Linked DNA regions of Homo sapiens. The protein of the gene in region 1 purifies or fractionates together with the protein of each later gene. This does not show direct contact. Each region holds a gene or a part of one and is shown in the gene's direction. Other genes may lie near its edges.

Region 1 (5,506 bases):
ATTTACCATGTGGCCAGTACTGCGTCCTTCTCTAGAAGAGTATTGCAGCCAACTTCATTTAAATCAATTTATTATTTTGCCCTTTTTCATTTGTTTTGCTCTTTTATGCCTTGTTTTCCTTAGAAAATTTATTCAAAACCTAGTTAAACAGCAGCAATATAAATACTTTATTTTTCAAGAGCTTATATATTATCGTCATTGTTCTGTAGTTACTGATATAACTCAGGGACTACAGACCCAGGGGTGGAGGCCTTCGACCACTGGAAATCCCTTGGGAGACCATTACAGTGGTATTTTCTCCCTTTAGTTGGCTACAGAGTTCCCTGAATAGTGATATCTCCCTGAGGAGAAAAGTGCATGGTCTTCCTGATTTCTAGCAACAAAAGGACAAATTCTACAAATCCAAGTTAGGAGCTCTTGCTTAATATGCTGCTACAGTTACGATTTCCATGTCAAAATGAGATGACTCTTTTATGGTCTTTTCAGGTCAGAGTGATCCCAGGTGGGACCCTAAGGCGCAGAGGCCTAATCTGAGGCTTTCCCTGGTGCTCTCCCACCACCTGATGCAAGGGTATTAGGGTAACTGGGAGTCCCCTTGATCAGAAAACCCTATGTTATTACCCTAAGAATCAAACTGTTTGCACCTCCCAACAATCCACTCCTGCTTCCCAATCATCTTCAGACATGCAAAGTTGATGCATAGAAGCTAAAAGGCTTTTGACATTTGCAGGTCAACAGAGATTTGCTAAAACCATCTAGATTTCTCTTCGCAGTCCAGTCAATTCAACCAAGCCTGCAGCATCTCCGCAGCTCTTCTGGCTTGTGTCCTTCCTTGCTAGGGGTCCTTTCTTGGGGAAGGGTGGACACAACGTGGGAACAGAAGGGGAAAAGCAGGTTGAAGAAATCTGGCGTCTGGTTTGTTGGTGTTCCCTTCCAGGAACCCTGAAGAGCTGGTCTCTATTGCATGCCATGCTTCCAGGGGTGGGAGTCGGGAGTCCCCTCCCACCCTCTGCGGCCATCCCTAAGCTCCCTTCCAGAGCAACCTGGCCTGGCGACCATACCACTGAACCATCAAGGGCTATGGTTAATGCCCGGCGTGTTTTGAATCTCTGACTTCACGTGCTTTGATGTGTCCCCACGACCGTTTACTTTTCTATGCTGTTGCCAGAGGCTGCCTAGCAGGGCCTGTGTCTCCCGCTGACCTTTAAGGCCAGCACTGCATTCAGATGTTGGGCTTTTCCAATTTTGCTTAAATAACAACAAAATCAACCGAATTTTTTCAAATTAGAGTCCCAGGGAGAAGAAACTACAGAGAAAAAAATCATATTATGTATATATATGTATATACATATGTGCATGTGTGTATGTATATGTATTTTTACAATTTTTTTATCCTTGTTTAAACCTGGGCGGGAACCAAAGAGTAAAGCGCGTGCGGCTCCCTGCCCCCTGCCGCCAAGACGCAGTCCTGTACAGACGCGGTCCCTTCCCTCCGATTTCCCCTGACAGCTCGCGCTACTTTTTCCCGGCCATTGTTCCGTGTCCCTGGTGCTTCCTCCTCCCCCGTCCTCCATCCTCCTTGGGCGCCTTGCCCGCTTTGTCCCGCCAGCCGCCTCAGCCCCGACTCGCCGGGGTCAGAAAGCCGCCAGGATGCCCTCCAGCAGCCCGCGCGCCGGCCGCAGGTGCGCGCCGCCCCGCCCTGCCCTTCCCGCGGCCCCGCCCCAGCGCTGACGTCACAGTGACGCGCAGCCCGCGCAGGCGCAGCTACCCGGCACCCCCTCCCCGCGGCCGGCAGCCCGCTCGGTATTATGATTAGCGCTGGGTGCGGGGTTTCGGCGGCCGGGAGGGAGTTGTCGGCGCCGCGGCCGCTGCGGACGGACGCTCGCCTGCCGGCTGAGGTAGGGGCGAGCGCGGAGCGCGGCGGGGCGCGGCGGCCGTAGGCAGGGGTGCGGGGCCGGCCTCCGCCGCCTCAGTAGCCTCCGCTGTTGCCGGGCTGGGCGCCCGGGCCGGGGCGCTCGCCGCAGGCGGAAAGTAAGTTGCGCTCTCGGCGCCGGCCGCAGCGCGCGGCCCGGGAGGACGCGGGGCCCGGGCTGCGGTGGCCCGGACCCCGCGGCGCGGCCTGGCGGCGGGGCGGCGGCGGGGCCCGGCGGGAGCCGTCACTGCGGCGGCGGCCGCGGTCGCCTGGAGGCCCTGCCCTTGCGGCCGCGGCGGGATTGCGGCACCTCGGAAGGCGCCCGCATCCCCGCGCCCCGCCCCGGAGCGGGCCGAGTGCGGCGCCCGCGGGGCCCCGCGCCCTGGGCGCTTGGTAGGGTGTGTGTTCTTTGAATGCGTTTTCCCCTTTCAGAAGACTGTAGAAATCCGGCCTCAGCAAAAGGGTTCCGTGGTCAAACTGCTTTACAATAGAGTGGGGATGTTGTCTGTAGAGAAAGGGCAAAGGGGTAAGGAAAGAGGAGCAGTGCCATTCCCGAGGGAGAGCTAGAATTTTTGCAGACTGGGAGACTGGGAAATCTACGTTCTTTTCCATAGTCATCGCCTGTTGATTTCTTTCTGGTCCATTTTACAGGGACCTTCCTGCCTTTTACTTGGACTTGGGTTGCAGGAAAGTGGCAGCCTTTTATCTTCGGGGTTCTTGGAGCTGTGCTATTTGTAACTGTTGGATCGCATACAGTCCAGTAGTTTCATAGGGAGTTTCAGGCTTTGGGGAGAATTTAGCAGTGGAGTTCCTAAATCTATAGAGGTCTGAGGATATGGGACCTTTCAAACTGTCATGTTACTTTCCACCCCCCTTCCCTTTAATTATGTGCATTCTTAAAGTCTTAGGAACCGTGGTAAAGTTGACTTAATGCCTTAAACATTTTGTCAGGTTTTAAGGTGAAGCATGGCTTGCAAGTGTTGGACATCCTGTTGAATCTCCACCAAGTTCCTATCAAACATGAAATGCCTGAGTTTGGGCTCCTTGTATGGGATTGGAGCACTATGTCCCAAACCAGTCTTTAACTTATCAGAATATATACAGCAGTGTACTTTAAAGCCCGGGTTGTCAAGGCTTATGTAATCAGTTTGTTAATTTATAATCTCGTTACATTGCTTTCCAGATTTATAAAATAATTCCCTTAAGGAAATCTGTCCTCAACGTCTGCTTAAATATTTCTCTTGGAATTGGATTCTTGAAGAGGAATGTACTGTACAAGTGATGATTAAAGCATACTAATTAGACAAGTTTCTTTTTTTAAAGAACACCAAATACCAAATTTTTAATCTGATTATCTGTGTAATTGTCCTTGAGAGGAGAACAGGTGGACATTCCCATTTTACAGAACTAGAAATGAGAGAAATTACATGACATTTCCAAGGTCACATATTGAAGCAGTGTAGAAAGTCAGGTGCACAGTGCTAACTTTTTATAATACTCTCATCCTGAAGGCTTTTCAGGCAGGAAACTTTCAGTGCCACCTTTCAATTTTTTTTTAAATTTGTATAATCAGTTTTTAATTGTTCATTTTGTGCACAAAAATTACTCTCACCGTATTTTTTAATAATTCTGAGTATTTTTTTCTGTTTTACTGCAGTAAGATCCATTAGTCTAAAACATGCTAGAACTCAGAAGTTGTACTAATTTTATTTTTCTAGACCAGAAGTATAGGTTGGGTCTTTATGGTTTAGATTTAATCACATAATCCTAAAAGAAAGGCTTTTAAATGTCCTTATTAAAATTGAAGGGCTTTCGTGATATTTTTACTGGTCACAGGAAATACTGTTCATCTGAACTTCACTGTGAGTACTTCCCTCATACAGAAAGTGAAACCAAATAGAAAAATATTTATTTCTGGAGATACTGAGCAGCCATGGTTCTAAGTACTGGTATAAATAAGACATGATTTCTTCCCTGTAGCAGCTTGTCTAATCCTAAGAGCTCTTTACACTGCCCAAGAAGAAAAGGGTACAAATGAACTTTCCATAGGCCAGAATCTTAGGAATTAAAAACCGTAGATGAGAAACTCTAGACTTAATGTAACTGCATCCCAGCTGTTTGCTTAAAGATAGAGTGTTTATAACTAAGATGCTTTAGTAAGAAAACTGTTATTCAGAATTTAGGTATTTCCCAGTGTGTATCTATGTGCAGGTAAACTTAGAACAACTTAGGTGGAAAAATTGAGTGGATCCTAGCAGTTCTGAAGATAAACTTAACCTTTGATCATTTATTCATGGAATGTTTGTGTGTCTCTTTTGGTGGCCCTAGGGTAGAGGGAGGGCAGCAGTAGAAAAGTGAATAAAAACCAGTTCCTGACTGTAGGTTCTTAGAAGCTACTGGGGAACACCAAGGTAAACAGTAACAGTACGAACAGATGAACTGTGGTGAGGCATAGGGAAAAACCTGCAGAAGCACAAGGATGGCGGCAGTGAACAACCTGACATGGAAATGCTTCACAGAGGAGGTGATGGTTAAACTGGTCTTGAAGAATAGGAAGAATTCCCAGGCAGAGAAAAAGGGAAAAGGCTCAGGGGGTTCAGGGAGGGTGAGAAGACAAGGTCAAGTGGTGGGTGGGAGAAGAACATAGATCCAAGTGGGTGAAAGGGAGTTGAGAAGGCTGAGACAATGCAACTGTTCTTTCCTTAAAGCATTTGAAAAGGAAGGAGGGAAATGGGGCAGTTGCTTTGGGGGATGGAGGAGAAGGATTTTGGTGAGGTGTTTGTTTTGTTTTGTTTTAACTTTGGGAAGAGCTGGTATAAAATTCCTCAGATTTAATGGCCTCACGAGTGAGCACTGGAACTGTGTTGTCTGCTCTGGATAATCCAGAGCTACGTCATTGATCCTCATCTGCTTTTCTGCACATCTGCTTTGGGTTGTGGCTCTGTGTCTCATGGGAAACCATTTCTTGCTGGTGGTAGGGAAGGAACCTGTCTAAAGAGGATTCCTGCTTTGCCCTCCCTGAACATTTATTTCTCTGCTGTCACTTCCAGAGCCTCCTGAGAGTCTGCTTTGGCATCCCCAGCATTTGGCCTCTGCTCAGGTAGGCTGTTCCATGGCAAATCAGGCCTCTTTCCCTTTCCTTTTGCTATTATGCCCCCTAGTCTGCTGCCATGTGGCTACTCAAAAGTTACTTCAGACTCAGAGATCATTAGTTGTTCATCTAACATGTTTTAAGTTTTGGAGTATCTTCAGGCCCAAAGCAAGATTAGGTCTATCTGCACATCTAAACACATACCCTCTTGACTAATATTTGCCTGGACCGTTTAATGTAGGTTATGACAAAAATGCTCCAGGAACCTGGATTACACAACATAACGGTGGTCAAATCGCAGCCTCACTGGGCCTCAATTTCTTAATTGTTGACCTGCAGTTATCTCTCTTAAACCCATAATACTGTCAGCTCTTTGAAGGCAGAGACTACTTCTTTGATCTGTACATTATCAGACCCAAGTAATGCCGGGTACATAGTCTGTACCAAGAAGTGTCTTGGTGAAGAAGGTAAAAAAATCTAATCTTTAATTTGTTGATTTTATC
Region 2 (4,930 bases), on another chromosome or scaffold:
GGCAACTTGAAGAGGAGATAAAGGTAAGCTCCACTTGTCATTCTTGTCATTATTGTTCTTGTTATTTGTTTTTCGCTTACTTTTACAGACTTTCTTCTGGTGGCCTATAGGAGATCAGGAATCAAACATCACTTTAAATATATAAAATTAAGTCATCAATCTCTATGTTCTCAGGCCAAGAGTGCCCTGGCACATGCCCTGCAGTCCTCCCGCCATGACTGTGACCTGCTGCGGGAACAGTATGAGGAGGAGCAGGAAGCCAAGGCCGAGCTACAGAGAGCAATGTCCAAGGCCAACAGTGAGGTTGCCCAGTGGAGGACCAAATATGAGACAGATGCCATCCAGCGCACAGAGGAGCTGGAGGAGGCCAAGTATGTTCCAGACTTAGTTAAAATGGAACTATAAGTTTCCTTGCTCCCAAAACATATGAAAAACTAGGGAAAAAACATTCTGGGACCATATACAGCCATATTGTTGGAATTAATGTTTTGGTAGATGCCTTAGAAGAGATTCTGAGAGGAGTTCTCGATGCAAAATGTATATTGATGTGGGAAAGCTTCTTTATTATTAATGGATTAATTAAAAACTAGCACAAATAAGGGATACAATTAGACAGACAAAATCAAGTATATTTCATTTGAATTCAATTTATCCAACATTTGAGCCCTTAATATGTTGGACAGCCTACAAGAATACAAAGATTAGTACAGTACAGACTCTCCCTCTGGGGATTAAAATTATGTGGAGACACAGAAAAACAAACCAGTAATTCAAGGTAGATATTAATATTCTACAGAAGAGGAATAAACCAGCTACCTGGAAGGGTAAAGTGTTAGCTCATGCTTGTCATGGATGGCCTTAAAGCCACTCTATGAAGTATGGCAATACCAAAACTGGGGTTGTTTTTGGTATTTGGTGGTAGGATAATGGGAATGAGTTAATATAGAACTGGACCTACAAAACAAGCTTGAGAAGCAAAGTATTAAAGAAGTCTGATTGTGGAATTCACTCTCTTGTACCCACTTTGAAACACCCAATTCAGTTGACAGCCATTCACTTTTATTGCCCATATTTCATAGGAAGAAGCTGGCTCAGCGTCTGCAGGATGCTGAGGAACATGTAGAAGCTGTGAATGCCAAATGTGCTTCCCTTGAGAAGACGAAGCAGAGGCTCCAGAATGAAGTTGAGGACCTCATGATTGATGTTGAGAGGACAAATGCTGCCTGTGCCGCCCTGGACAAAAAGCAAAGGAACTTTGATAAGGTATTCTCTCCAGTTTTTGCTTCAACTTTCAACACAGAATTAACAATAGCCTGCTACCTTCAGTGTGCCCAATTCAAACCATCTGAGGGCTGTTCTCAGTAGCTCTTAACCCATCAGCAGCTGTCTGTGGAGAGGGGAAGTGCTCCTATGGTTTCTATTCTTCTCATTCATAATTTTTTTTCAGTCCCAGAACACCTCAACTCTGAGAGGTGCTAGAATAGATGGTTTTTATCTCATCAAATTTTGTCCACTAAATTTCTTGTCCATTCCTTGACCTTCAGATCCTGGCAGAATGGAAACAGAAGTGTGAAGAAACTCATGCTGAACTTGAAGCTTCTCAAAAGGAATCCCGCTCACTCAGCACAGAACTATTTAAGATTAAGAATGCTTATGAGGAATCTTTAGACCAACTTGAAACCTTGAAACGGGAAAATAAGAATTTGCAACGTGAGAACATTTTACCTTTTCTTTAACAATAAAAGATTTGAAAGAATCTTTTCCAACTATAAACAAATTTCTATATTTTTTGTTCACCAACAGAGGAGATTTCTGATCTCACTGAACAGATTGCAGAAGGAGGAAAGCGCATCCATGAACTGGAAAAAATAAAGAAGCAAGTTGAGCAAGAAAAGTCTGAACTTCAGGCTGCCTTAGAGGAGGCAGAGGTAAGCATTTTATTGCATACTCTAAAACAATTAGAAGAGGAATTGGGGTCTATTAAATGTAAGGAATGGTGAATCAAGAGAAACGAAAAATAATTTTTGCTCCATGAACTAGGGATGAGAATGGAGAACTGATCATGCATACAACCAACATAACCATATGTCAGGAACTGTGCTACACACTGAGCAAACAAAGATGAATCAGTTAAAGGCCCTGCTTTCAAGGGCACAATCTACCTAGGGAGATAAAAGCATATAAAATCAACAATAACATTCAATAATTTGTAGAAATGTCTAAAACAACAAAATAAAAATGTATGATGGCAGCACAAAGGCAGACAGTGTGTGTGTTAGAGAATAGCAAGAAAATGCAAAGGCATGAAAATGACACTCTTGTTTAAATCTTACTACTACTTAGAAATCTATTTATAAATAAGGTTTCATGAATGATAAATCATTCTTATCTCTAGAATACTACACACTTCCATTACTCTACTAATGTCACCTCTTGCTGTCATTAAGGCATCTCTTGAACATGAAGAGGGAAAGATCCTGCGCATCCAGCTTGAGTTGAACCAAGTCAAGTCTGAGGTTGATAGGAAAATTGCTGAAAAAGATGAGGAAATTGACCAGATGAAGAGAAACCACATTAGAATCGTGGAGTCCATGCAGAGCACACTGGATGCTGAGATCAGGAGCAGGAATGATGCCATTAGGCTCAAGAAGAAGATGGAGGGAGACCTCAATGAAATGGAAATCCAGCTGAACCATGCCAACCGCATGGCTGCTGAGGCCCTGAGGAACTATAGGAACACCCAAGCCATCCTCAAGGTAAATATGTCCAACAGATGATCCCAGGACAATTGGGGTGCCTGCAACCCTGAATACATGGTGTCTCAATGACGGTTTGTTCCACAGGATACCCAGCTCCACCTGGATGATGCTCTCCGGAGCCAGGAGGACCTGAAGGAACAGCTGGCTATGGTGGAGCGCAGAGCCAACCTGCTGCAGGCTGAGATCGAGGAGCTGCGGGCCACTCTGGAACAGACAGAGAGGAGCAGGAAAATCGCAGAACAGGAGCTCCTGGATGCCAGTGAGCGTGTTCAGCTCCTGCACACCCAGGTGCATGTAATAATAGAATAGCAACAAATACAAGGGTATGAAAATGACATTCTTGCTGAAATCGTGGTACTATTAAGAAATCTATTTATAAGATTTCATGAAGGATAAAGTTTAAAATATTTTATTTTTTTGATTATCTATATTCTTATCTGAACTATAACATCCATAGTTGATTTTTTTTTTTTTTTTGAGACGGAGTCTCGCTCTGTCGCTCAGGCTGGAGTGCAGTGGCGCAACCTCGGCTCGCTGCAAGCTCCACCTCCCGGGCTCACGCCATTCTCCTGCCTCAGCCTCCGGAGTACCTGGGACTACAGGCGCCCGCCACCACGCCCGGCTAATTTTTTGTATTTTTAGTGGAGACGGGGTTTCACCGTGTTAGCCAGGATGGTCTTGATCTCCTGATCTCGTAATCCACCCGCCTCGGCCTCCCAAAGTGCTGGGATTACAAGCATGAGCCACCGCGCCCGGCCAGTTGATTGTCTTTTAAACATATGTCAACTCAGATAATTTATGAAACAAGGAGGAATATTAATGAATTCATTTAGTTAATTAGTTTATGGTTCATTAGAACATGAGGTTTCCTAATTTTTCTCTCATGTGCCTAATATTTCTAAATTTCACATTTTAAACAGAACACCAGCCTGATCAACACCAAGAAGAAGCTGGAGACAGACATTTCCCAAATCCAGGGAGAGATGGAAGACATCATCCAGGAAGCCCGCAATGCAGAAGAGAAGGCCAAGAAGGCCATCACTGATGTGAGTGAAGGGTAACACAGTGGTGGTCAAACTTAAATCTTAATGTGCTGTCTTAGCTGTCTTAACCCATTCTGTTTTACTGCTAATTAGGCTGCCATGATGGCTGAGGAGCTGAAGAAGGAACAGGACACCAGCGCCCATCTGGAGCGGATGAAGAAGAACCTGGAACAGACGGTGAAGGACCTGCAGCATCGTCTGGATGAGGCTGAGCAGCTGGCCCTGAAGGGTGGGAAGAAGCAGATCCAGAAACTGGAGGCCAGGGTGGGTCTCCTAATCAGCATGTATTTCTATCTCATTCCAATCCAACACACGATTCTGAATACCTAGCACTGCTAGATGATGTGGGGCATACTGAGATGAGGGAGAGCTATTCCCTCATGCCCAAAAGCTCATAATAAGGAAAACTGAACTAGGGCATTAAAAACTACATATAAAGCAGAGTAGAAGAAGTATGTGGGTCATGTGAAGAAGTAGAAATTCGTCAAATGAATGTCCTTAAAATGTCCATCTTCTTGTAGGTTCGTGAACTTGAAGGTGAAGTTGAAAGTGAACAGAAGCGCAATGTTGAAGCTGTCAAGGGTCTACGCAAACATGAGAGAAAAGTGAAGGAACTCACTTACCAAGTAAGGAAAATGGCCTGTCTAGGTTTTCACTTTAGTCCACATGGGATTAAAAGTCATATGTATGACAAAATGTAATATTTGTACTTTCAAGAAACTTACTCTTGAAAACATTATTTCAGACTGAGGAAGACCGCAAGAATATTCTCAGGCTCCAGGACCTGGTGGACAAACTGCAAGCAAAGGTGAAATCCTACAAGAGACAAGCTGAAGAAGCGGTGAGTTCACAACCCCTTGGGGTGATTTTTCTCAGACATGACCAGGCCAGTTTAGTTAAAGTGACAAAAGAAAAGATGAGTAAAATGAGGAAGGATCAAAAGAAAACAAATGGCTACATGGAGGTCCAAGGCTGAGGTAAAACCAACCACCTGACAAGCCAGCAGAAGATGTTCTAGAGATGGGGAAGAGCAAATGCAAAGCTTTTGAGTGGGAAAGAGTCTGGCTCAAGAAGCAGACAAAAAAAGGAGGAAAGCACCACAACTGGGACTGGAGAGCCAGGCAGGAG
Region 3 (4,930 bases), about 110 Mb from region 1:
AGAGAACTATACACAGATAGTATTCCTCATCCCCCTGAATTGACTTATATAAAAAAGAAAACGGAGCATCCGACAAATTGATGCAATCAAAAGGGAGCAATAAGCCTTTTTCTCCTTTTAAGCCTCTTAAGAAATAAACCCATCATTTTATCTAGTGTTTTCTCTGCTCTTGCAGCTGCTCGACTGATCCAAAACATGGATGCCACCACTGAGCCTTGTACAGACTTTTTCAAATATGCTTGCGGAGGCTGGTTGAAACGTAATGTCATTCCCGAGACCAGCTCCCGTTACGGCAACTTTGACATTTTAAGAGATGAACTAGAAGTCGTTTTGAAAGGTTAGTAGAGATTGTGTCTGTGCATCAAAGATTTCTCTCTTAATATGTTCATTTTTTAAATATACAATTGTTAGCCATTACAAGGAATGTCACAGAAGATTAAAAAGTTAATAATCCTTCCAGGATTTGTGTACCACCACCAAGTCACTCTGATAGTGGCAGACACTGAAATTAATGTGTTGACATCTCTTAGCATTCCTGCTTTCATTTGTAGGTATGCAAATAATAAAGCGGTATCATCTCTAGAGATGGCAGGTTTGGTTTTTTGTTTGTTTGTTTGTTTGTTTTTTGAGATGGAGTTTTGCTCTTGTCACCCAGGCTGGAGTGCAATGGTGCTATCTCGGCTCACTGCAACTTCTGCCTCCCAGATTTAAGCAATTCTCCTGCCTCAGCCTCCCAAGTAGCTGGGATTGTAGGCACCTGCCATTACACCCAGCTAATTTTTGTATTTTTAGTAGGGACGGGGTTTCACCATGTTGGCCAAGCTGGTCTTGAACTGACCTCAGGTGATCCACCAGCCTTGGCCTCCCAAAGTGCTGGGATTACAGGTGTGAGCCACTATGCCCAGCCAAGATGGTAGTTTTATGCCATTTTACAGAAGAAAAAAAATTAAATGATTGGCACAGAAACCTACTTCTGTAGTCTCCCTACCCAAACCCTGTGTTAAAGTTACTGTAAGATGTTACTAAGATTTGCCTTCCCAGCACAGGTATATTCTAACCTGGCTAAGACTGTCTCCCTGAGAAGTTAAGAAATCTAGCCAAGTCCCTCCTATCCTTTGTTCTCTGTTCTCCCCTCTTCTAGAAGTTATTTTGTAGAAGAACAATTTTTGCTACTTTTTAACATTGAAACAAGTAGGACAATTCAATTCATTCATTTGGAGCATGAACGGTACAGTCACACAAAGATAATTATTTTCCAGCCATCAAAAAGACTATTCATACTAAATTCCAAATTCCTCTGTGTTATTGTTTTTTTTTAATCTCAATTTCAAGAAAAGTAACTGTTACCTATGGCAGAGCCGTATGCATCACTGTTCATAAAAAAAAAAAAAAGATAATCTAGTCAAAAGGACTTTCATCTAAATTGGCTGATTAAACTGACTCCCAGTTCTGTGCTAGGAATGATAATCTGGTAAGGGGTTTGGTTTTTCCTATAATGTTTTGGAACTGGGGGGAGGAAATGAATGTACCTCCAGAAAAGCAAGGTTTTTTTTTAACTGAACCCACTTTGCAAATGTTAATTACTGCAAATGAGCAATTATGTTTGCATAGTGCAAATGAGCAATTATGTTGATGCATTTTATTAAATGTCCTATTTCAGATGTCCTTCAAGAACCCAAAACTGAAGATATAGTAGCAGTGCAGAAAGCAAAAGCATTGTACAGGTCTTGTATAAATGAATGTAAGTGCTCTTCATTTGATTTCATTAGGAGTATATATATATATATATTGGTGCCAAACTATGCCTAGATTTCTAATTGAATTTATGTTTGTTGTTTCCAAAAGCTGCTATTGATAGCAGAGGTGGAGAACCTCTACTCAAACTGTTACCAGACATATATGGGTGGCCAGTAGCAACAGAAAACTGGGAGCAAAAATATGGTAAGGCAATTTTCCTACTAAAAAAGAAATTTCCATGTAAAATCTATGTTATAATATCATTAGTGAACTAAAGCTTCTAAAGATATATTTTATCTTTTATTGCTTTAGGTGCTTCTTGGACAGCTGAAAAAGCTATTGCACAACTGAATTCTAAATATGGGAAAAAAGTCCTTATTAATTTGTTTGTTGGCACTGATGATAAGAATTCTGTGAATCATGTAATTCATGTAAGTTTGTGTGTCAAATAACTAAAGTTACCTTTAAATTGTAATAAAACTTCCACATACATTGTTGTTATTGATATTTAGAAATAATGCTATTTTCAATTGAATTGAATAAGCAAGGAGGTAGTATATCCATGCTCTGTCCCTAATACCTGGAGTTCCAATTTTGAAAGTATTTTCTTAATGCTGTTTTCGACATTCACCCCTTGCTTCTGCTACCTCTGTTTTAGATACCTCTCCCTTCACAAAACAAATGATAAGAAGGGCTCCAGGCCCCTCCTATTCAGAAAAAGTTCCTAATTTCTTTGTATAGTACTTGAAAGGAGCATGCTTTCGTTTATAGAAGTAATGCAGGTCTAGAAACCAAAAAATAATAATTGCTTTCAAAAAGAACACAGAAAAGGGATTTTAAACATCATTTTTTTCCTCACTAAAGAGTATCTGTACTTTTTTCTCAACTAAAGGTAAATAAAATGCCTTTCTTTTAAAATGGATTTATTGTATTTTTACAAATGTAAACAATTTGATTTAGGTGTCACCTAAGACTAGATTAATGACTATGTTTGGAATGTACTGAAAAATATAAAGAGTTTTTCTTTCTTCCTTTTTTTTTTTGTTTTTTTTTTTTTTTGGTTTCCTGTGTAAGAAATTATACAAAAAATTGCAGGCTACTGAATCACCTAATCATATCTGTGTCACTATTGCATAAATCTTTATGGTCGTTTTTGTTAAAATCATGAAAGGAATTGAACCCAAATCTCCTGCAGTGGGCTCTCTCTCTTCTGAAACTTTCTCCTTGCAGGATCACCTTGAGGACCAGGGGGTGGGGAAGGATCAGGGCCCTTCATGTGGAGATATCTTCTGGCTCTTTCCATACCAGTTCTTTGGGTTATGTTTTCTTTTCTATTGGCCTAGGCTCTCCACAGCTGCTAGGATTCTCTCTTTAACCCAGAAATGCTCTGTTTGGCCTCCACACTCATGTTGCCATGCAGTGAGTAGGAAACAATCTTGCAAAGCTGCAGTATGCCCAGATAGCTCCCACTTGGGTATTAAACATGGACCAGACACGTTAGCGCAAAACTGAGTTTCCTCTTTCACACCCTTAACTGCTATCTGGGTCTACTGAGGTTCTTCTGAGCAGAGCAGCTTTGAGGAGAACCAAGGAGAAGTCGCCTCCATTCCCTTAGGGTAGAGAATCTTAAAAAACATTTTCTGGCACAAGTTACATTAGCTAAAAGATTCTGGAGTTACCTTAGAGGTTTTCCACTTCTCCCCTTCTCCCCATCCATCCAAATCAACTTGAAGAATATTAACCCACTCCCACCAATGAAAGGGGATCCCAACTAAGGGTGGAAGCAGATGAGAATGTTCCCAGGGGAGCACATTAGAATCTCAGGAAGCTGAGAAATCTGTGAATATGTAATTTAGAAATTTCCACGTCCTAGAATCTAACATGTTTTTGTTCACTTGCACCTTCTGCTCTGCATTAAAAATCCCTCCTAGTAAATCTTTTGTTCACTTTCTTTTGTTTTCCTTAAATATCTGCAGCACAGTCCTCCAGATTATCTAACTGCCCGTTAGTATAACACTTACAAGTAGTGTAGAAAGCATTTCCTAACTAGGTATTTATTGAGTGTCTGATGGTCACCCCATAAACAGCAAGAGTAGGATCTTTCACATACATAGATAGACATGCTTGTATTTTTCAAACTTTTCTATATTCACTGAATGATTTATTTTCTTTTATGTATATTTTTTATAGATTGACCAACCTCGACTTGGCCTCCCTTCTAGAGATTACTATGAATGCACTGGAATCTATAAAGAGGTAAAAAGAAAAAAAATAATCAAAACCAAACTACAAAATGATCTGGTGTAAACCTACAAGTAATGAAAAAGATAAAGCCAAATTAAATTTAGCCCTCTGATGTTTTTCATTCATGACAGGGACTTAAAATCACACATAATAGTGAGCTGTCTTTGATAGAATGAACATTCTCAATAGAATGAATGAAGGTATTTTACAAAACTAGGAAACTTGAAATTCCTTATTTGTATCTTGGTTTTTAGTATTTAAAACATATGATCGATTTTGAAAAGTTAATTTAAAATATTTTAATCCACCTGTAAACTGCATTATTTAAAAAATGAAAAGATTTATCATGGTCTAGGGTGGTGCTGGTGAGGACCAGAGGGTCAGTGAGAGATACACTCTGCAGCATCCTTCTGGAACCATCTGATTTGACTGTCAGAGAACTATGCAGGTAGTGACATTGGGCTCAGACAAACTTTTGCAGCTACCTTGTGACTCTAACATTGGCCAGGTAGCCAGTGGGCATCATATCCCATAGTGGACGTTTGGATGTTCTGGAGTGCTTTCTTATTGTCTCACAACCTTGCCTCCCTTGGGCTGATGTTCACGTGCTCTTTTTTTTTTTTTTTTTTTATTATACTTTAAGTTTTAGGGTACATGTGCACATTGTGCAGGTTAGTTACATATGTATACATGTGCCATGCTGGTGCGCTGCACCCACTAACTCGTCATCTAGCATTAGGTATATCTCCCAATGCTATCCCTCCCCCCTCCCCCCACCCCACCACAGTCCCCAGAGTGTGATATTCCCCTTCCTGTGTCCATGTGATCTCATTGTTCAATTCCCACCTATGAGTGAGAATATGCGGTGTTTGGTTTTTTGTTCTTGCGATAGTTTACTGAGAATGATTTCCAATTTCATCCATGTCCCTACAAAGGACATGAACTCATC
Region 4 (4,930 bases), on another chromosome or scaffold:
TATTTCTTTTCTTCCTTTTTCTTCAGAGGGAGCTGGTGGAGGGGCCAAGAAAGGTGGTAAGAAGAAGGGCTCTTCTTTCCAGACAGTGTCTGCCCTTTTCAGAGTAAGGAAGAAATTGTTTTTGACATTCTCCAATTACTTTGGGATTTTTTTTACATGGGTCTGTTTTTCTGAACTTCTATTTTTGTTCTAAGGATATATTTATCTATTCATATACTAATATCACATTACATTTATTAAAATTACTTTGTAATATGCTTTGACATCTCGCTGGGCAAAATTCCCCTCGTCTTTTCTTTTTTTAAATTTATTTTTTATTTCAATAGGTTTTGGGGAACAGGTGGTGTTGGGTTACATGCATAAGTTCTTTAGTGGTGATTTCTGAGATTTTGGTGCACCCATCACCAGAGCAGTGTACACTGTACCCAATGCATAAAATTTGCTTTTAAAAGTACAAGATCATTCCATGAGTAGTTTAGAAAAGGACTGATAGTAACTAGTGACTCTGTTGATCTAACTTTGGAAAGAAGGGATTTAAATTACTCAGAAATTATTAGTTCACTTTTCATGCTAAGTCAAATAATGAGAAATATTTTATAGAAAATCTTATAGACCATAATACTCTGCCATTCATAATCTAGCTGAGCCATGAAAAAGAGCAATGACATGAACTCAGAGAGACTAAAAGACATCAGTATGGCTAATGAACTCATGAATTCTAGCAGCAAATCTGCAGTGCAGCTAATATGGTATCCTTGCTCTTAATCGAGTCAATTTTCAATTATAATTGGTAGGATTGCTCCCCTGTAGATAATCTCTATCCCCTAAAAATTGATAGAGCTGGAAAAGAGGAGCTGTATTATAAGGAAAACGTCCAAATGTGGTGCAGGCTTCCATTTCCTTATTGGAGAACTATGGAATTTGGTAGAAGAAAGAGCGATCATCTCGCATGGGAAGGCAATGGCCTTGTAAATGTATGTGTATGGCCAGGGACCAGGGTAGAAAGGATGGTGTTGGCATAAACTGAAAAGAAGCACATGCCAGGATGCTTTCCTTGTTCTGTGTGTAACTCTCGGAAACTCAAGTGCAGAAAGATCTATTGAGGAGGAAAAAGCATCTCAGAAGAAGCATTCAAAGTGTTGCCTTATATGAATGCAGTCCATACTGGTCATTCAACTCAGCTATAGATATTGATTTTATAGACACCAATGACTGCTCATATCCATGTCTAGAGCCTAAAATGACAGGATTTTTCCTGGTTTTACAGGAGAATTTGAACAAGCTGATGACCAACCTCAGGAGTACCCATCCTCACTTTGTGAGGTGTATCATCCCCAATGAGACAAAAACTCCTGGTAAGAAATTCCATAATGAAAGTGCAAAGGATGACTGCCACACCTCCTTTTCAACAGCTCTGCAGTGAAATAAATATGCATTTTTAGGTGCCATGGAGCATGAGCTTGTCCTCCACCAGCTGAGGTGTAACGGTGTGCTGGAAGGCATCCGCATCTGTAGGAAAGGATTTCCAAGCAGAATCCTTTATGCAGACTTCAAACAGAGGTCAGTTTCTCCTGATTATGGTGTATTCTGAAGTTTAATATGAACAAGTTTAATGCAAGCAAAACAATTTAGTGAAACATATGCCTCTACTTGTTAGTTTTGTCACAAAAAGAAGTAAAAAAATTACAAGTCTCAAGTCTCGAACACTTTTGTTTTGAGACAAAGTCTTGCTCTGTCACCCAGGCTGGAGTGCAATGGCGTGATCTCAGTTCACTGCAACCTCTGCCTCCTGGGTTCAAGCGATTCTCCTGCCTCAGCCTCCCAAGTAGCTGGGACTACAGGCATATGCCACCACGCCCAGCTAATTTTTGCATTTTTAGTACAGATGGGGTTTCACCATGCTGGCCAGGCTAGTCTCAAACTCCTGACCTCAGGTCATCCGCCAGCCTTGGCCTCCAAAAGTTTTGGGATTACAGGCATGAGCCACCATGCCCAGCCTCAAATACTTTTAAAATATAAATATACAAAATTTTAAGCACCTTGTGGAATTTTCATTGGATTTATCAGGCACTTAGCTTAGCTCATAGATGCACACGTTAACTCCAATAATAATTAAGAACGACCTTTTTGAGTGCTTAATATGTTCAGATTATCTTGTTTAATCCTCGCAAAAACACAGTGCAAGTAGGTACTATTAAGACTTCACTTTATAGATGAATAAGCTGAGGCTCAGGGAAATTAAGGTACTTGCCCAAAGTCACAGTTATTAAGTGGTTGAGTTAGAAACTCTTCCATACAAACATAGCTATTCATTTTCTGTCATTTCCTTTGGTATCATCTATGTTCGTCTTTTTCTCCCACATATTAGACTCCCAGGGTTTCCTGGAGGCAGAGGGAACATGTCACAATGACTGTTCCTCAGGTCCCTTTTCTCCTCTCTAGATAAGCCCATCTTGAGAATCAAAGAAAAGGCAGAGGTGGGGAAGGACTGGGTAGCAGCTGCTAGGAGCTGATCTCTCCCAGGTCTGGGTCAGGTGGCACTGACAGAGGATTCCAGGGCTCAAGATCCAAAGCATGTCTAAGTTTGATTTTAGGTGATTAGGATAGTTCTGAATACCTAAAGTGTACTGTCTACCAAATTCTTCAATGAAAAGTAGCTTTCTTGGATTCAGGGCCTTAAAAAGCAAATGCATCTAGTAAAGATAACAGATTACATTTTATTGGTTAGGCACACCATAATGTGTCCCTTTCTTAAGGCAGAACCCTTTTCTAAGAACAGGGTCTGATGAGACAGAAAGGAAAGTTGCAACTGCGAGGGAAAGGCAAATGGAATAAAAATTGGTTGCCAAAGGGTTGACCATTCAAATAAACAATGTTCTCCTTGTGAACAAAGAATAATATTTTTTTAAAGCTCTGCTTTAAAAAATGAATCATTTAATGTTTAGCTAGCATTTGTGTCATCAGTAAACTAGTTGTTAAAAGCTATATGTACTTCAACAGATACAAGGTATTAAATGCAAGTGCAATCCCTGAAGGGCAATTCATTGATAGCAAGAAGGCCTCTGAGAAGCTCCTTGCATCCATCGACATTGACCACACCCAGTATAAATTTGGGCACACCAAGGTAATTTTCTGTAAATCCTACCTGATGCTATTCCTGTCCCTTTGAACTTTATTAAAGCTTGTGATTTGCAACTCTTTCCATTCACAGGTCTTTTTCAAAGCTGGTCTTCTGGGGCTCCTAGAGGAGATGCGAGATGACAAGCTGGCCCAGCTGATTACCCGAACCCAGGCCAGGTGCAGAGGGTTCTTGGCAAGAGTGGAGTACCAGAGGATGGTGGAGAGAAGGTATAAAAAATATGTTTATTCACATATTCCATCTTCAAAAACATATTTGAAATGGCTTACAGTTAAGACTCAGCTTATGATAAGGACACTAAAGAAGAAATGAATAAGAGTCCTATAATGAAGTGGGAATACACATGTACCAGAAAACTTAAGGAAGGAACCATCACCATCTGATTGCATGGGTAAAAACTTGAGAAGTTAGGTAAGAAGTGTGTACTTCTTATCTAATAAGATAAAATACACCAGTGAGTAAGCAGAAGCAAACTTTTGCCCTAGCACCTGTTTCTAATATGAATTTATTGGACAGATCATTAGATAAGGGACATTGACCTGCAAAACAGACAGTATACTCAAGAGTGCTTTTACACAGGCTGTAGAGACAACTTTTTCCCTCTGATCATTTATATTATCAAACTCTCATGATTTAAAATATTAGGGGCCATTTATCTGTGAAAGACTTTTTGCAGTAAGTTAACACAATGCATCAGGGAATGTAGCTATTTGGTGATCTAATTTGATGCAAGGACAGAGTTCAAAGACTATAGAGCCAGGTGTCTCAAAGTACAGGATGTCTGTGATCAGGACCATTTCTCCATGTTGAGAAAGGCATTTTACATTGCCACCTATACATCTACACATATACATATGTGTATGCAGATATATAAATAATTTATATGAAGCAAATTTTATTTTTACCACTTGTAATTATGCTAATATTTTCAACTATATTCCATTTTATTAAAAATAATAAATTTTGGTCATGATCCACGATATATATATATTTGGGTAATTGTCTATATATGGGGTAATTAGCTGTAAAAATCATTTAGATGAAAACAAAAGTGGTATTAGAGAATAGAATACAAAATTCACACAACATTAACATATAAAGCCAGATATTTTCTAAGAAATTCTGAGTTTTTAATATCTCCTGCCCCATATACCCCTAAAGAGCTGTGTTCCCCCTTCACTGCCCTTAGTGGTGTTTTAGTAGCAATGTTTGAGAAGCACTGACATACAGCAAGGCTTCTCAAAGGGTGCTCCTTGGACTTGCAACATCAGCATTTCTTGCAAACTTGTTAAAAGTGCCAATTTTCAGGCTCCACCCTAGATCTTCTGAATCTGAATCTGAATCTACGGAGGTGAGGTTCAGGAGTCAGTATTTTAACAAGCCCTTCAGGTGATTCTTATGCATGCCAAAGTTTGAGAAGCAGTGATGTAGAGAAATGAGTGACCTTAGCAAGACCTTGACCATCATCCCGAAATAGAATTTTTTCATCTGCATGTTTGAAAGCAGAGTAGGAACAAGGTGAAGCAGAACCTCCAACTCTCACTGCCAAGGTTTCATCCCATTGCATCAACCACACAATACTAATTTGCATCAATTAAATTTCAGGGAGGCCATCTTCTGTATCCAGTACAATATCAGATCCTTCATGAATGTCAAGCACTGGCCCTGGATGAAACTCTTCTTCAAGATCAAGCCTCTGTTGAAGAGTGCAGAAACTGAGAAGGAGATGGCCACCATGAAGGAAGAATTTCAGAAAATTAAAGACGAACTTGCCAAGTCAGAGGCAAAAAG

The links.
Region 2: the proteins of SNRK (region 1) and MYH1 purify together in Homo sapiens (affinity purification with mass spectrometry; one large-scale study listed by BioGRID and IntAct). This does not show direct contact.
Region 3: the proteins of SNRK (region 1) and MME purify together in Homo sapiens (affinity purification with mass spectrometry; one large-scale study listed by BioGRID and IntAct). This does not show direct contact.
Region 4: the proteins of SNRK (region 1) and MYH2 purify together in Homo sapiens (affinity purification with mass spectrometry; one large-scale study listed by BioGRID and IntAct). This does not show direct contact.

What each region holds. Positions count from the first base shown.
Region 1 is NC_000003.12:43,284,778-43,290,283, forward strand, and holds the start of SNRK (SNF-related serine/threonine-protein kinase), read left to right. Parts: upstream 1-1,762; 5' UTR 1,763-1,898; exon of another isoform or gene 1,899-2,031; intron 2,032-4,962; exon of another isoform or gene 4,963-5,012; intron 5,013-5,506. UniProt on the Homo sapiens protein: May play a role in hematopoietic cell proliferation or differentiation. Potential mediator of neuronal apoptosis.
Region 2 is NC_000017.11:10,494,067-10,498,996, reverse strand, and holds part of MYH1 (myosin-1), read left to right. Parts: coding exon 1-23; intron 24-174; coding exon 175-371; intron 372-1,079; coding exon 1,080-1,263; intron 1,264-1,544; coding exon 1,545-1,710; intron 1,711-1,803; coding exon 1,804-1,928; intron 1,929-2,447; coding exon 2,448-2,756; intron 2,757-2,843; coding exon 2,844-3,047; intron 3,048-3,679; coding exon 3,680-3,805; intron 3,806-3,895; coding exon 3,896-4,066; intron 4,067-4,323; coding exon 4,324-4,428; intron 4,429-4,547; coding exon 4,548-4,643; intron 4,644-4,930. UniProt on the Homo sapiens protein: Required for normal hearing. It plays a role in cochlear amplification of auditory stimuli, likely through the positive regulation of prestin (SLC26A5) activity and outer hair cell (OHC) electromotility.
Region 3 is NC_000003.12:155,114,819-155,119,748, forward strand, and holds part of MME (neprilysin), read left to right. Parts: intron 1-175; coding exon 176-337; intron 338-1,660; coding exon 1,661-1,741; intron 1,742-1,845; coding exon 1,846-1,941; intron 1,942-2,049; coding exon 2,050-2,168; intron 2,169-3,927; coding exon 3,928-3,993; intron 3,994-4,930. UniProt on the Homo sapiens protein: Thermolysin-like specificity, but is almost confined on acting on polypeptides of up to 30 amino acids. Biologically important in the destruction of opioid peptides such as Met- and Leu-enkephalins by cleavage of a Gly-Phe bond.
Region 4 is NC_000017.11:10,531,703-10,536,632, reverse strand, and holds part of MYH2 (myosin-2), read left to right. Parts: intron 1-26; coding exon 27-103; intron 104-1,267; coding exon 1,268-1,355; intron 1,356-1,442; coding exon 1,443-1,560; intron 1,561-3,000; coding exon 3,001-3,124; intron 3,125-3,211; coding exon 3,212-3,348; intron 3,349-4,744; coding exon 4,745-4,930. UniProt on the Homo sapiens protein: Myosins are actin-based motor molecules with ATPase activity essential for muscle contraction.